2 separate regions of the Homo sapiens genome follow, and region 1 is linked to region 2. Evidence: fine-mapped expression QTL. A gene starts in region 2. The other region holds a variant in brackets. All regions are shown on one strand. Distances are between the middles of the regions.

The links. PIP is the estimated chance that this variant, and not a neighbour inherited with it, causes the effect.
Region 1: its variant is the best candidate, but not a certain one, in a credible set for the expression of NLRP13 in testis (GTEx, PIP 0.64).

The regions. Positions count from the first base shown.
Region 1 is chr19:55,862,478-55,870,818 of GRCh38, reverse strand. It overlaps NLRP4 (NLR family pyrin domain containing 4), which reads right to left. Exons shown (of 10, transcript NM_134444.5): 6 at 2,943-3,110. Among named protein-coding and RNA genes, the nearest start is that of NLRP4, 30 kb to the right of the region's middle. The variant C/T (reference allele first, on the strand shown) is at 4,982.
Region 2 is chr19:55,928,927-55,937,267 of GRCh38, reverse strand. NLRP13 (NLR family pyrin domain containing 13) reads left to right here and starts at 4,932. Exons shown (of 11, transcript NM_176810.2): 1 at 4,932-5,275. The coding sequence starts at 4,957.

The sequences.
Region 1 (8,341 bases), 66 kb after region 2:
ACAAAAACACGAGAAGGAGAGTGAAGAGGGACGTGGTGTCTCAGGGAGATTTGCTTAATTTCACATTCAGGGTAATATTTCTATAATCTTACAAACTCCCCAGCTGAGATGAAGTTCTGGATTATCTGAAAACACCTCCTCTCATTTATTCTTTTGAGATGGAGTTTTGCTGTCGTCGCCCGGGCTGGAATGCAACGGCGCGATCTTGGCTCACTGCAACCTCCACCTCCCAGGTTCAAGTGATTCTCTTGCCTTAGCCTCCCAAGTAGCTGAGATTACAGGCACCCACAACCACATCTCGCTAATTTTTGCATTTTTAGTAGAGACGGGGTTTCACCATGTTAGCCAGGCTAGTCTCGAACTCCGGACCTCAGGTGATCTGCCCACCTCGGCCTCCCAAAGTGCTGGGATTACAAGGCGTGAGCCACCGCGTCCGGCCCTCTCATTTCTTCTTAGTTGCATGATAGAAGAATTAGAAAATAAGAGGGTAATGCAGAAGGAAAAAGTATCGTGTAATATGGCATAGCTAATACTCTAACAGGGCTTTAATTTTGGTTCTAATTCTTCATCTGATGATGTCCTTGGACAAGACATGGACCTTCTGAGACCGCTCCCTCAGGGACTGGTAAAGTGTATTGATTACCTCATGTGTAGAATCCCCAACTTTTTCAATTTCATTATTCTTTAAAATCACAGTAGGTTCAAAACTTTTTTTTTTTTGGAGACAGGGTATGGCTCTGTCACCTAGGCTGGAGTGCAGTGGCATGATCACAGCTCACTGCAGCCTCTACCTCCCTGGCTCAAGGGATCCTCCCACCTCAGCACCTCAGTCTTCTGAGTAGCTGAGACTACAGGTGCGTGCCACCACACCAAGCTAATTTTTGTATTTTTTTGTCAAGAAAGGGTTTCATCATGGTGCCCAGGCTGGTCTTGAACTCCTGGGCTCAAACAATTCACCTGCCTTGACGTCCCAAAGTGTTGGGAATATAGGTGTGAGCCTCCAATCCCAGCCAGTTTATGAATTTTTTTTTTTTAAGGATCCATGTTGACTTTGAAAAAAAAGTGTGGAGTAGAGAAAAACAAAAAAGCAGACGGTGCAAGCTAGTGATGAACGAACCACATATGGCCTACGGATATTTAGATTTCCTGGCATTTTTATGTTTAACAAAATCAGTTGGCAATATATAACCATCAGTAAAATTGTATGTAAAATCTAGATTTCAACCTCTGTTGAAAACTGGGATATCTGGCAATAATGAGCCGCATTCCCACATGGAAATCCAACAGGCTAGGACAGAACGGGCAACTGCTTCCTGTTGACAGACACAAGATCTGCATTTCCACGGAGGCCTCACCCAGCTTGCTTCTCTCACGGATCTCAATTTTCTGGCATATCCAGGCATTTGTGGACTTTGTTGTTTTTTGTTTTTTTTTTGGTTTATTTTTTGTTTTTTTTTGAGACAGTCTTGCTCTTTCACCCAGGCTGAAGTGTGGTGGTGCGATCTCGGCTCACTGCAACCTCTGCCTCCCAGGTTCAAGCGATTCTCCAGCCTCAGCTTCCCTCGAGAGTAGCTGGGACTACAGGTATGCACCACCAAACCCAGCTAATTTTTGTATTTTGTATTTTTAGTAGAGACGGGGTTTCACCAACTCACAGAGTCTACCAACTTCCATCTGGGTTCCCCTTCCTGAACTGCATCCTGAAATCTCTCTCCAGATAGTTACCTGGGACAATTCTAGGACTCACCTGTTTGTCCCTTATCACTCAGGCACCACTGTCCTTCATTGCCTGATGTCTGAAGTCTTAAACAGTTGTTTTATTTAGTTGGTTATTTTTGGTTGTTTTAGGTGGGAGGTTAAGTCCTGTCCCTGTCCCTCTATTTTAGCTCGAGGTATAAATCCTCTCATTTTCTTGACATTTTCAGAATACTCTTACTTTCATGTTGTTCATATTTCAAAATGCCCAAAAGTATAAAGAGGGAAAAATCTCCATCCTCCCCTATCTCCCAGCTTCTCAGTTCTATTTCTCACAGGCAGCCTATATTATAATACTATTTCTTCCAGTGATATTTGTGTATTTAAAAAATAGACACACTCGAGACCAGCCTGACCAACGTGGAGAAACCCCATCTCTACTAAAAATACAAAATTAGCCAGGCATGGTGGCGCATGCCTGTAATCTCAGCTACTTGGGAGACTGAGGCAGGGGAATTGCTTGAACCCAGGAGGCAGAGGTTGCGATAAGCCAAGATCATGCCACTGCACTCTAGCCTGGGCAACAAGAGCAAAACTCAAAACTCAAAAAAAAAAAAAAAGACACAAATGCATATATATTCTCCTGTCCTCTCCCCTTTTGTATAAGTATCACCTAAAGGTATTAGAATTCCATTAATAGGTAAATCAATTGGCCTTTAACACTTACTCATCTGTCTTCCTTCTGTGTTTTACGTACCCTAAAACTGGCTTGAATAGCCTCTTCTCATCCTATTACTGCAAGAACATCACATGTATTATAGTATTAACTGGGGTCAAGAGGCCCATAGACATTTTTCCCCGCTACTGTCCTGAGTACCCACCAAGTCTATTCTACATGCTCGAAATAACCGTTATCAACACGGGAAGTACCATGTGTGTTGCAGGTGCATTAACCCAACCTAACAGCTTTGAAACACAGTACGTGTTCTGTATAGACAGTCTCACTTGATAGCCATAAGACCTCTAAGACAGGATTTTCCTCTGCTTCTAAGTTAAATATTTTGCTTAAGAAGACAGTATATACGTGATAAATCCTGAACTAGAACTCAAGTCTTTTCTGATTCTTAAGCGTGAGCTTTTAAACCTCCGCTATGTGGCCTCCATCAATGAGCAGACTGTCATCAATAGGCCCAGGTTTGAACTGCCGCCATGGCCCTCCACAGTAGGCACCCCCAACATCCACTCACATCAGGTATACCAGGACCGTGTCTGGGCTGCACAGGGCTTCACACAAAAGGGGCACGCCTGTGTCTAACTGGTTGCAGGATACATTCAGATACGTCAGCTTCTTGTTGTTGGTTAGAAGGCCAGCAAGGACTTCACAATCAATGGGTGAGAGGTGACAATTTACCAGCCTGCAGGAAAGGGAAAATGTCACATTCTGTTGGTTTCTAGTTCCTGGACTCATTCCTCTTGCCAATCCTGTCAGAGTCGGGAAGCCCACATTTGCTGTCCTTGAGAGGCTCACTGCCTCCCAACCCTGTTCTTGATCCCTGTCAACCCAGTCTCTGGGGTACAGAGACAGCCAACCTGAGATGCACAGTCTCAGTTATATGCATGCTTGGCTTACGGTCTCTGGGGTACAGAGACAGCCAACCTGAGATGCACCATCTCAGTTATACGTATGCTTGGCTTACGGTCTCTGGGGTACAGAGACAGCCAACCTGAGACACACAGTCTCAGTTATATGCATGCTTGGCTTACAGTCTCTAGGGTACAGAGACAGCCAACCTGAGACACAGTCTCAGTTACATGCACACTTGGCTTACGGTCTCTGGGGTACAGAGACAGCCAACCTGAGACGCACCATCTGTTATATGCATGCTTGACTTATGGCCTCCGGGGTACAGAGACAGCCAACCTGATATGCACTGTCTCAGTTATATGCATGCTTGGCTTATGGTCTCTGGGGTACAGAGACAGCCAACCTGAGATGCACCGTCTCAGTTATATGCATGCTTGGCTTATGGTCTCTGGGGTACAGAGACAGCCAACCTGAGATGCACCGTCTCAGTTATATGCATGCTTGGCTTACGGTCTCTGGGGTACAGAGACAGCCAACCTGAGACGCACAGTGTCAGTTATATGCATGCTTGGCTTAGCCTCCCCCAGTAACTTATCTCACTGCACTTGGAGAAAATCCCAAAATATACAACATGATCCACAAGGGTCCTACCCATTCCCAAGTCCCCATGTCCCAGCCACCCTGGTTCTTTTTCAGTTGCTTGACAACACAGGTTTCATTCTCTAAGATATTATTCATGTTTGATCCTCCCCAAACTCGTGTCTAGTGGCTCCTTTACTCAACTTGGGCTATTTTGCATGTGTGCCCGCCAAGTGGAATGCTCTTTTTCTGGCCTGTGGTTAGATGCATCTTTATCATTCAGGTCTCTGCTCAAGTAATATCTCCTCAAAGAACATGGAAGAAGCCTTGAACCCGAGTCCCCTAGGACTCCTTTTTTGGTGGCTTGAGTTGATTTGTGTTGCCTCACAACTGTGTGGTTTAACTGTGTGGTTTTCTATTACCTCAACCACTCTCCTTACCTCTGGTTGCCACAAAAAATAAGCTCAGAGACAACAGAATAAAGATGAAAGCCATTATGGGAGTTGTCCAGAAATAAATGTGGAATTGGCAAGTCACCGAGTCCATGGCTCCTCACGCCTCTGCAGCAGGGCTCTGAGGCCATGCATGCTTTTAATGTTCTTTCTAGATTTAAGATATAGGTTGGTGCGGCCGGGCGTGGTGGCTCAAGCCTGTAATTCCAGCACTTTGGGAGGCCAAGGAGGGCGGAACATGAGGTCAAGAGATCAAGGCCATCCTGACCAGCATGGTGAAACCCCATCTCTACTAAAAATACAAAAATTAGCTGGGCATGGTGGTGGGCACCTGTAGTCCCAGCTACTCAGGAGGCTGAGGCAGAAGAATCACTTGAACCCAGGAGGCGGAGGTTTTAGTGAACTGAGATTGTACCACTGCACTCCAGCCTGGGTGACAGAGTGAGACTCATCTCAAATTTGGGGGAAAAAAAAAGAAAAGAAAACAAAGAAGTTAATCTTAATGAATTTGGGTTAGGCAATGGTTTCGTAGCAATTGCACCAAAAGCACATGAGACAAAAGAAAAAAATAAAGTGCATCTCATCAGATTAGAAGCTTTTGTGCTTCAAAGGACACCATTAAGAAAGTGAAACGACAACTCACAGAATGGCAAAAAATATTCACAAAGTA[C/T]GTCTCGTATATAACTTGTAATCAGAAAACATAAAGAACACTTACAACTTGACAAAAAGGCAAAAAATCCAATTAAAAATGTGCAAAGGTGTTGCCAACAACCATATGAAGAAATGCTCATTAATCATTAGAAAAATGCATATCAAAACTGCAATGAGATACCATCTCACACAGGTCAGAATGGCTATTATTAAAAAAAGTCAAGAAATAATATATGCTGGTGAGGTTGCAGAGAAAAGTGTACACTTACACATTTTTGTAGGAATGTAAATTAGTTCAGCCATTATGGAAAGCAGTTTGGCAATTTCTGAAAGAACTTCAAACACAACTACCATCAAACCCAGCAATCCCATTATTGGGTATATACCCAAAGGAATATAAATCATTGTACTATAAAGACACCTGCACTTGTATGCTCATCACAGCACTATTCACCTAAATACCCATCAACAGTGGGCTAGATAAAGAAAATGTGATACATATACACCATGGAATACTATGCAGCCATAAAAAAGAGTAAGATGATGTCCTTTGTAGCAACATGGATGGAGCTGGAGGCCATTATCCTTAGCAAACTAACACAGGAACATAAATCCAAATATCACATGTTCTCACTTATAAGTGGACGCTAAACACTGAGTACATATAGACATGAAGAAAAGGACAACAGACACCAGGGCCTACTTGAGAGCAGAGGGTGGGAAGAAGGTGGGGAAGAAAAATCTACCTATCAGGTACTATGCTTATTAACGGGTGACGAAATAATTTGTACACCAAACTTCCATGACGTGCCATTTACTTTTATAATAAACCTGTACCCCTGAATGTAAAATAAAAGTTTTTTAAAATGTTGTTTAAATGTTAAAATTTTTAAATGTTTAAAAACCTGTACCCCTGAATGTAAAATAAAAGTTTTTAAAAATGTGTGAAGGACTTGAATATATATTTCTCCAAAGAAGATATAGAAATGATCAAAAAGCACAGGAAAAGATGCTCATCATTAGTCATTCAGGAAAAGCAAATCAAAACCACAATGAGATGCTCCTTCACATCTACTAGGATGGGTATAATAAAAAATAAGTAAATATAAGTAATAATAAAATATAAGTAAATAAGTAAAAAATAAGCAAAGATGTGGAGAAATTAGAACTCTCATACATTGCTGGTAGGAATACAGAATTGTGCAGTCACTGAGGAAAATAACTTGGTGGTTTCTCTAACAGTTAAATATGGATTTACTATATGACCTAGCAAGTCTACTCCTGGTTACAAGTCCAAAAGGATTGAAAGCAGGTGTTCACACATGAGTGTTCATAGAGCACTATTCAGAATAGCTAAAAGGTGGTAACAACCCAAGTGTTCATCACTAGAGGACTAGAAGAACAAAATGGGGAATATCTACACAGTGGAATACTATTTAGCCAAGAAAAGGAATGAAGTACTGATACATGGTACAATTTGGATAAACCTTGAAAACATTTTGCTAAGTGAAAGTAAGCCATTCGCAAAAGACCACATGTGATTCAACTTACATGAGACGCCTGGGATAGGAAAATCCAATAGGACTGAAAGTATGTTAGTAATTCCCAGGGACCAGAGAGATAAGGGAGTGAGGAGTGAATGCTAATGGGTATGGGGTTTCTTTCTGAGGTAATGAGAACATTCTAAAATCAGTCATGATGGTTGTACTTCCTCATGAATATATATGAGGATCACTAAACTGTACATTTTAAAGCATAGTTATACTTTAAAAGTATTTCTTAAAATATATGAAGTACATACTTTAAAAGTATATGTTTTGTGGTATGTGGATATCACAATAAAGTTGTTATTTTTTAAAAAAGGGTTTGGGTCTTTTTGTGTTCGGTTGATGCAAGCTCAGAAAAATGGCCAACAAAGACTAGTATAGAGAAGTATTTGAATGTGTGGGTACCAATGAAGGTAAGTAGAGGGTAAGTATTTACAGGAAACCCTTATTTAATTGCAAAAATAAAAATGCTTGAATTAAAACATACATACTGGAAAGTACACACAATGGTTAAGTGCCAGCCAACGCACTGTCATGAATTTAAGGCACTTGAGTTACCAGTATCCAGGTCAAGAAACAGAGCAGGTTCATCATTCTCCTGTACCCCTCTCCTTCACTATCTTAACAAAAGTAACCGCTGTCTGATATGGTTCGGCTGTGTCCCCACCCAACCCTCACGTCGAACTGTAATCCCAGTGTTGGAGGAGGGGCCTGGGGGGTGACGGAATCATGGGGGTGGTTTCTAGTGATTTACCACCATCCCCTAGAGCTGTTCCTGTGACAGAGTCCTCACGCGACCTGGTTGCTTGGAACTGTGTAGCGCCTCCCTCTTCTCTCTTCTTCCTGCTCCCCCATGTAAGACGTGCCTGCTTTCCCTTTGCCTTCTGCCACCATTGTAAGTTTCCTGAGGCCTCCCCAGAAGCAGAAGCCTGTACATCCTTCAGAACCATAAGCCAATTACACCTCTTTTATTTATAAATTCCCAGTCTCAGGTATGTCTTTATAGCAGCGCGAGAACGTGTGAATACACTGCCCGAACCTCCAACACCAGAGCCTTGTCCATCTTTGAACTTCACAGGAATAAAGCCATAGGATGTACTCTTGAGTCTGGCTCATTGCCATCAACAATGTCTGAGATTTGTCCAGGTTTTTGCATACGACCGAGAGTGTTCTTTCTCATGGAACAGGAGCATGTAACCACAGGTTTCTTATCCAACTTACTGTCAGTGGTATTTCCACTTCTCAGAGATTATGAACACCTGCTGGGAATGCTTTAGTGCCTGTCTTTCAGCAAACTGAGACAGGTCCCTCTGTCGAATGTGCACCTCCAGGTGGAATTATTGGGTTACATAATCTGCCAGAATCCATGAAGGCTGAATACACACAGTTTTCCGAAATGGCTACATCAATTGGGAAACTTTAACTTCCCTATCCAAGTTCTCAGGAAACTAAGTTTGCATACAAATCATAGAAGGAAAAAGTGGATGTCTTCAAATATGCAGCCCCCTCCCCCAACACAAAAAGAAATACATAGTCTTCTCTGAAACCCAATCAGTGGTCTCAATAAACAGAGACTTACGCTATAGTCTTCTCTGAAACCCAATCAGTGGTCTCAATAAACGGAGACTTACGCTATAGTCTTCTCTGAAACCCAATCAGTGGTCTCAATAAACAGAGACTTACGCTATAGTCTTCTCTGAAACCCAATCAGTGGTCTCAATAAACAGAGACTTACGCTATAGTCTTCTCTGAAACCCAATCAGTGGTCTCAATAAACAGAGACTTACGCTATAGTCTTCTCTGAAACCCAATCAGTGGTCTCAATAACGGAG
Region 2 (8,341 bases):
CCTGACCAACATGGTGAAACCCTGTCTCTATTAAAAATACAAAAAAAAAAAAATTAGTTGGGCATGGGTGCACATGCCTGTAATCTCAGCTACTTGGGAGGCTGAGGCAGGAGAATCACTTGAACCTGGGAGGCGGAGGTTGCAGTGAGTGGAGATGTCGCCACTGCACTCCAGCCTGGGTGACAGAGTGAGACTCCATCTCAAAAATAAATAGATAAATAAATATTAGGCATATAAACTCTTTCTGATATAAGTTGCAAATATATTTACCATTTTATAGTTTGTCTTTTTACCTTGCTTCACACATCTTTTGTTATGAATGCTTAAAAAACATTTGTAATAAAATTTGTTTATTTTTTCTCTAATTGCTTTTGAATTTTAAATCTTAGCTAAGAAAGCTTTCCCCACCATCAGGTTTGAGAGGAATTCAATTGTTTTCTTCTGGTGCTTCTAAAGTTTTATTTATGCATTTAAATCTCTGACGTGCTTGAAAATTATTCTGTTGTATAGGAAACAGATCTAGCATCACCATGCTTATTAAAAGTCAATTTCCCTCACTTATGAGTGATGCAATATTTATCAAATTTATATATGTTAATAATTTTATTTCTGGATTTTCTTTTTTCCTTTTCTTTTTTTTTTAATTTTTTTTTGAGACAGAGTCTCCCTCTGTCACCCAGGCTGGAGTGCAGTGGCGCCATCTCGACTCACTGCAAGCTCCGCCTCCCAGGTTCACACCATTCTCCTGCCTCAGCCTCCCAAGTAGCTGGGACTATGGGTGCCCGCCACCATGCCCAGCTAATTTTTTGTATTTTTAGTAGAGACGGGGTTTCACTGTATTAGCCAGGATGGTCTCGATCTCCTGACCTTGTGATCTGCCCTCCTCAGCCTCCCAAAGTGCTGGGATTACCGGCGTAAGCCACCGCGCCCAGCCCTATTTCTGGATTTTCTAGTCTGTTCCTTTGCCCAGTCTGTTTGCACATGTGCCAATACTATATTTTAATCATAAAGGCCTCATGGTATATTTTAATATCTGCTAGGTTTAGTCCCTCCTCATTCCTCCTTTTCAGGATTTTCCAGGCCATTCCTACAAATTCGATTTGTTCAGTTGAATTTTATAATCCACTTCCGCACCTCCAGGTAAAACCTTGATGTATTTGTATTAGAGAGAAGTGATATATTTATGAGGTTGAGCTTTCCATGCAAAAACGTGGTATTTATTTCTTTAAGGCTTAAGTCCACTTTTGGATCTTGCAGAAATGTATTTTATAGTTTTTCTTACATAAGTTTTGGATATTTCTGAAGTTTTTAAGTAAGCATTTTATTTCCATTTTTTTTTTTTTTGCTATAGTAAATAGGGGTATTCTTTTCCAGTGTTTTGAGTTTCCATATTTGAAGTCTATTGATTTTTGAATACTTATTTTATTACCTGCTGTAATACCAATTTCTCTTGTTGTTGATAGTTCTCCCATGCAGTCTTTTGCATTGTCCGGGTACATAATCAAGTTTGCAAATGTAGTTTTACCTGTTGCTTTCCAATTATTATACCTCTCTCTAATTGCTTTCCAATTGCTAGTTTAAAGCCTGTAACCCGAGTTTAAAACTAGCTAACATTGTTGATAGAATTGGTTGACATCTCCAGCAGAATGTTGAATAGCAGCGGAGTTATGACTATCCTCATCTTGTTCCTGACTTCGGTGGAAAATCCTTTGTATTCATGATGGAATGGTGGAAGGAGCATTTCTCCTGCAGTTGGAAGAAGACACAGTCCTGTAAGTGGCGGCAACCGTGATTTTAGTGTCTCACGACCTCTGTCTCCCTCTCCTCTTTCATTGTCCCCTGAGGTCGCCCAGATGGTAGGAGGGGTAATCACAGGCATTACTCCCATCTGTGGCTCTTTGCTGGCGTGGATGGCTCCATTTACTTCAGGATAGTATGGTCTTTAAACCCAGTTTGGCCTCCCAGCCTGAAGAATCCTGTGATTATCTAGATCTGGAGGAGAAAAACCAGATATCGTACGTCTCAGCTGAGTCTTGTCAGCTTCTCAACTGACCCCGAGTTGTGCTGGGGAAAGGGAGCGGGAAGAGAGCTATAAACAGGAGGCCCCGAGACACAGCTAAGAGGAGGCAGACGGACCCGAGGGCTGCTCACAGGTGAGGAGGGGGTGGCGGTGACTACTTCTATGGGGTTTCCCGAATCAGCCTCTGGAAACTCATGTGAGATTCAAAGTCTGGTTGGTAAGAGACGTCTCCTCTCTCTGCTCTAAGGTTTCACCTTTCTCTGGGACCTTTTACTCCACTGTATCCTGCTGGTGTTTTCTTAGGAGCAAAAGTTGATCGCACACACTTCCTTCTTCGATTAGGAGCTTTCCATCTCCTCAACCAAGGGGATTCCGCAGTTGTGTGAGATTTTCTAGCTGAATTTCTCTGTTCTTGTATTTTTTTTCCCTCCAGGGCTTTTGCACTTGCTGTTTTCACTGACCGCTCTACCCCCTAATCCTCTTCCCACCCTCCTTGGCTCAATCCGATGCATGCATCAAGTTTGGAGGAATTTCCTTTCGAGTCCTATGTACTTGGCCTACTTGCTGTATAACTTCATGGCACCATGTGGGTCTCATACCCAACATGCTTCATCCTAATTATAGTTCATCCTCTTTATTTGTGGATTCCATGTGTGTGAATTCATCTACACGCTAAGATCTGCTGGCAACCCCCAAATCAATATTTGCAGAGCTTTCAAAGTCATCCAGACATGCACAGAGCCAGGAAAAATTCGAGCTGAGGTCAGATAAGGCAGTGCTGGTGGGTCTACTTAGTGCCCTGTTTTTGCATTTCTGGGCTTTTCGTCGGTGACTTTGCTGTCTAAACGTCCCCTTGTGTAGTGTGGAAGTTCTGTCTGGTGCTCGACACACAAGAAGGCTGGGATGTGAGTTCTGAAGAAAATGCATGCGTTAGCTGAGCTTCTTTCAGGCATGAGCTATAGTGTTGCTGGCGGTGGGCTCAATGTTAATGAATCAACGATATGTATTAAATTAGGTTTCCTTAAACAGAGACACATATAAAACAAGGTTATGTATTGACTAGTGGATGAAAATGTGACGAGAGGCTCACGGGAACCTAACCCTATAATCTTGGAGGAGTTTGTTGGTGGCTGATGTGATACCTCAGTTCTTCTCGGTTTAAAAATTTAAACAAGAGACATACAACAAAAGTGCAGCATGGAGTAATTTTTTTTTTATTGTTTCGAGACAGTCTTGCTCTTGTCGCTCAGGCTAGAGTGCAGTGGTGCTATCTCGGCTCACTGTAACCTCTGCCTCCCAGGTTCAAGCTATTCTCCTGCCTCAGCCTCCTGAGTAGCTGGGATTACAGGCACCCACCACCATGCCCACCTAATTTTTGTATTTTTGGTAGAGACGGGGTTTCACCATGTTGGCCAGGCTGGTCTCAAGCTCCTGACCTCATGTGATCTGCCCACCTTGGCCTCCTAAAACTAGGATTACAGGTGTGAGCCACCGCGCCCAGCCCCCTTGCTCAGCTTCTACTGGGTGTTCAATGATAGCTTAATGTCATTTGATTCTCAAATAAGCTTTTCCCCTAGTCTTTATCCTCCCTGCTTATACCTGAAAGGGCTTTTCTTCATGATGTTTCAAGTTTTCCTCTGTGTGTCTTTCCCCATCTTTTCTCCAACAATTTCTGGAGTAGTCCAATGAATTTGGGCTGCCAGGGTAGGTCCTAACATACATCTCTTCTGGAGATTTCTCTTTGGGAGACATTCGGGGGTCACACACCAGTAGCTTCAAGCATAGTGTTTTGGGCCAGGCATGGTGGCTCATGCCTGTAATCCCAGCATTTTGGGAGGCCAAGGCCAGTATGCACCTGTAGTCCCAGCTACTCGGACGCTGAGGCAAGAGAATCACTTGAACCTGGGAGGCAAAGACTCCAGTGAGCCGAGATCCAGCCATTGCACTCCAGCCTGGGCAACGAGAGCGAAACTCCATCACAAAAAAAAAAGTCTTTTGTTCTGCTGTCTATCTGTTGCCTTCAATACTACCTGGTATTTTGACATGACCCAGCATACATGCCGGACCAGGTTCTATGGGGGAATAGTGGCAGATCTGTCTCAATCACCATTAGCTGCCTGGTGGCCAAAATCGTGATGGGCGGAAACTTCTATTTTCTCTCTTTGTTACCCCTTCTCCCTGATTAGTTTCCCCCGTTCCCATCTCTCAAATGTCTTTGATCTTTACTGTGACTAATTAACTTCAATGTTCTTCTTATTCACATTTCAGGTGAACCCTCTGAATGTGAGTTGGTAAGTACCATCATGCACCTGTAACTTTTCTAGGACAGCTGTCACTGTTAGTAAGGCAGATAAATCAGGTGCTGATGGCATTGTTCCTTCTGGGATGGGATGAAAGCCAGTGATCTCGAGTCTAGGTAAGGTTGCTAGAGAAAATACCCAGTTGAGGCCGGGCCCGGTGGCTCACGCCTGTAATCCCAACACTTTGGGAGGCCGAGGCGGGCGGATCACAAGGTCAGGAGATCGAGACCATCCTGGCTAACACGGTGAAACCCCATCTGTACTAAAAATACAAAAAAAACTAGCTGGGCGTGGTGGCGGGCACCTGTAGTCCCAGCTACTCAAGAGGCTGAGGCAGGAGAATGGCGTGAACCCGGGAGGCGGAGCTTGCAGTGAGCCGAGATCGCACCATTGCACTTCAGCTTGGGGGACAGAGCGAGACTCCATCTCAAAAAACAAAACAACAACAAAAAAGTGTACTAACACAAGTAGCAGGAAGTACTGTGAAGCGAAAATACTCAAATGTGTAGGCAAGACAGTGAGAGGAGGTGATATTTATGGCTTATGATTTCAACTCTCTCCTTTTCTGCAGGTCACAAGTGTCCTGTGGATATAGGAGTCCTTTGCTGAAGTGAGAAACTGCATGTGTTGGGCAAGATGAACTTTTCTGTAATCACCTGCCCCAACGGTGGTACCAACCAAGGGCTTCTGCCTTACCTGATGGCCCTGGATCAGTATCAGCTGGAGGAATTCAAGCTTTGCTTGGAACCCCAGCAGCTGATGGACTTCTGGTCGGCCCCCCAGGGGCACTTCCCGCGTATCCCCTGGGCAAACTTGAGAGCTGCCGACCCTTTGAATCTGTCCTTTCTTTTGGATGAACACTTCCCAAAAGGTCAGGCATGGAAAGTGGTCCTCGGCATCTTCCAGACAATGAATCTGACCTCACTGTGTGAGAAAGTTAGAGCCGAGATGAAAGGTGAGAGTCCTCAAGAAGGAAGGCGGGAGGGCTGCTTGGTACTCCTGAGGCAAGGAGGTAGCCGCTGGGTTTTTGTGGGGTCATTCCACACTGCCGATCTCCCCCTACAAATCCTCCTTGATAATCTATGACAGTATGATGTTTAAAGGCATAAAGGCTATAAAGATTTAGTGCTCTAGCCTGGGAAGGAGTAGCAAAGGCAAGAAAGGGAATCGGAAGAGGCACATTCAGTTATGTTATAAGCCTTTTTCTTTCTTTCTTTCTTTCTTTTTTTTTTTTTTTTGAGCCTGAGTCTCCACTCTGTCGCCCAGGCTGGAGTGCAGTGGTGCGATCTGAGGTCACTGTAACCTCTGCCTCCCAGGTTGAAGCGATTCTCCTGCCTCAGCCTCCCAAGTAGCTGGGACTACAGGCGCCCGCCACCACACCCGGCTAATTTTTTTGTATTTTTAGTAGAGACGGGGTTTCACTGTGTTAGCCAGGATGGTCTCAATCTCCTGACCTCGTGATCTGCTCGCCTCGACCTCCCAAAGCACTGGGATTACAGGCGTGAGCCACCGCGCCCAGCCCAGGCTTCTTTTAAACATGCAAATTTGTCCCAGTGTGATTGTCGTACTGGGAACAATTTGAGTGCAGCACAGATTTCATGTTAGCTTATGCATGGTTTTGCCCAAGAGAAACACTAAGAAACCACAACAACCCCCGCCCTGCCCCCGCAACCCACCGACCCTGCACTCAGCCGAGCAGAGCCATGTAGGATTGTACACAATGCACACAGGCATGTACCTCAAACATCTACCCGCTTCCTCAGTACGAGCCTTGCCCATTCTACACTTTCTGTCTGATTTCAGATCATTGTTCTTTCACTTCACAAAAACTCACAAGCTGCGACACTTCCCATATTCACAAGCAAAGTTCATGTTTTACTCAGGGTAAAGTTTCATGCCACATCTTCTGTGGCATTGCAAGACCTGCTGAGGTGTTACAGGGCTGATTGTGGTGTTGTAGGATCGTGCAGTGTTTATTGTGGTAATAAAGTGTTTTGTAATTAATCAGCAAGTATAAAACCATGCTGTTTAAGCTTCTGGTTAAAATTTTATATATATATATATATATATATAATCACTGATTCTATCTCCTGTAAGCCGTCTGGTCTTAGTGCACCATGTAATCTGCTGTGGTGAGTTTTCAGAATGCACACATCACTTTATAAAAGAACTGACTGCCTATGAGAGCTGTTGAAAATAATCATGTTTCCTGGTGCCTGTTATAAACCAGACATTGACTCTTTTTTTTTTTTTTTTTTTTTGAGATGGAGTTTCCTTCTTGTCACCCAAGCTGGAGTACAATGGTGTGATCTTGGCTTACTGCACTCTCCGCCTCCTGGGTTCAAGGGATTCTCCTGCCTCAGCCTCCCGAGTAGCTGGGACTACAGGCACCTGCCACCATGCCCGGCTAATTTTTGTATTTGTAGTAGAGACGGGGTTTTGCCATGTTGGCCAGGCTGGTCTCAAACTTCTGACCTCAGGTGATTTGCCTGCCTCAGCCTCCCAAAATTCTGGGATTACAGGCGTGAGCCACCATGCCTGGCTATAAACCAGGCATTTATCTTAATGCTGTCTATACATTTGTACTGACTCTTCACTATATTTATAAGAAGGAGGTCCTATTACTTGTATCTTACAGAGAAGGAAACTGAGGCACAGACAGCTTAAGTAAATTTCCCAAAGTCACAGAGCTGGTGACCAGGAGAGCTGGGACATGAGCCCAGGCAGTGTGTCTCCAAAGGCTCTGTGCTTGACCTTGTACAGCTTCTCCTACCCTCAAATGAGTGAGTTCTAAGGAAGGAGAGTGGGCAATACTGAGTCTTCCATATCAGAACCCTGGACACGGGGCATGCGGAGTCATACAAGTTCGGGCTTTGTGTATCTTCTGGTGGAAAGGAGGATGAGATGGAGACTAGAACACCACTCCACCCTTTTTCCCTGTCCCTCTCTCATTTTTAAAGCCCTCAGATACTCTTGTTTGGAATAGGCAGATGTAAAGCAGAAAACTAGGGAATGAGATTTAGAATTCTTTTTTTTACTGTCTTAATTTCTTTTCTTTTCTTTTTTTTCAAAGAACCAACTTTAGGCTTTATTGATTTCTCTATTGCATGCTTTGTATTGCATTGATTTCTGATTTTATCTTTATTATTTTCCTCTTTCTACTTTCATTTTTTTATTATACTTCAAGTTTTAGGGTACATGTGCACAACGTGCAGGTTTGTTACATAGGTAGACACATGCCATTGTGGTTTGCTGCACCGATCAACCCATCATGTACATTAGGTATTTCTTCTAATACTATCCCTCCCCTAGCCCCCCACCCACTGACAGGCCCAGTGGGTGATGTTCCCCTCCCTGTGTCCATGTGTTCTCATTGTCCAGCTCCCACTTATGAATGAGAACATGCGGTGTTTGGTTTTCCGTTCCTGTGTTAGTTTGCTGAGAATGATGGTTTCCAGCTTCATCTATGTCCCTGCGAAGGACATGAACTCATCCTTTTTTACGGCTGCATAGTATTCCATGGTGTATATGTGCCACATTTTCTTCATCCAATCTATCATTGATGGGCATTTCGGTTGGTTCCAAGTCTTTGCTATTGTGAACAGTGCTGCAATAACCATATGTGTGCAAGAGTCTTTATAGTAGAATGATTTATAATCCTTTGGGTATATACCCAGTAATGGGATTGCTGGGTCAAATGGTATTTCTAGTTCTAGATCCTTGAGGAATCGCCACACTGTCTTCCACAATGGTTGAACTAATTTACACTCCCACCAACAGTGTAAAAGTGTTCCTATTTCTCCACATCCTCTCCAGCATCTGTTTCCTGACTTTTCAATGATCGCCATCCTAACTGGCGTGAGATGGTATCTCATTGTGGTTTTGATTTGCATTTCTCTAATAACCAGTGACGATGAGCTTTTTTTCATGTTTGTTGGCTGCATAAATGTCTTCTTTTGAGAAGTGTCTGTTCATATACTTCGCCCACTTTTTGATGAGATTTTTTTTTCTTGTAAATTTA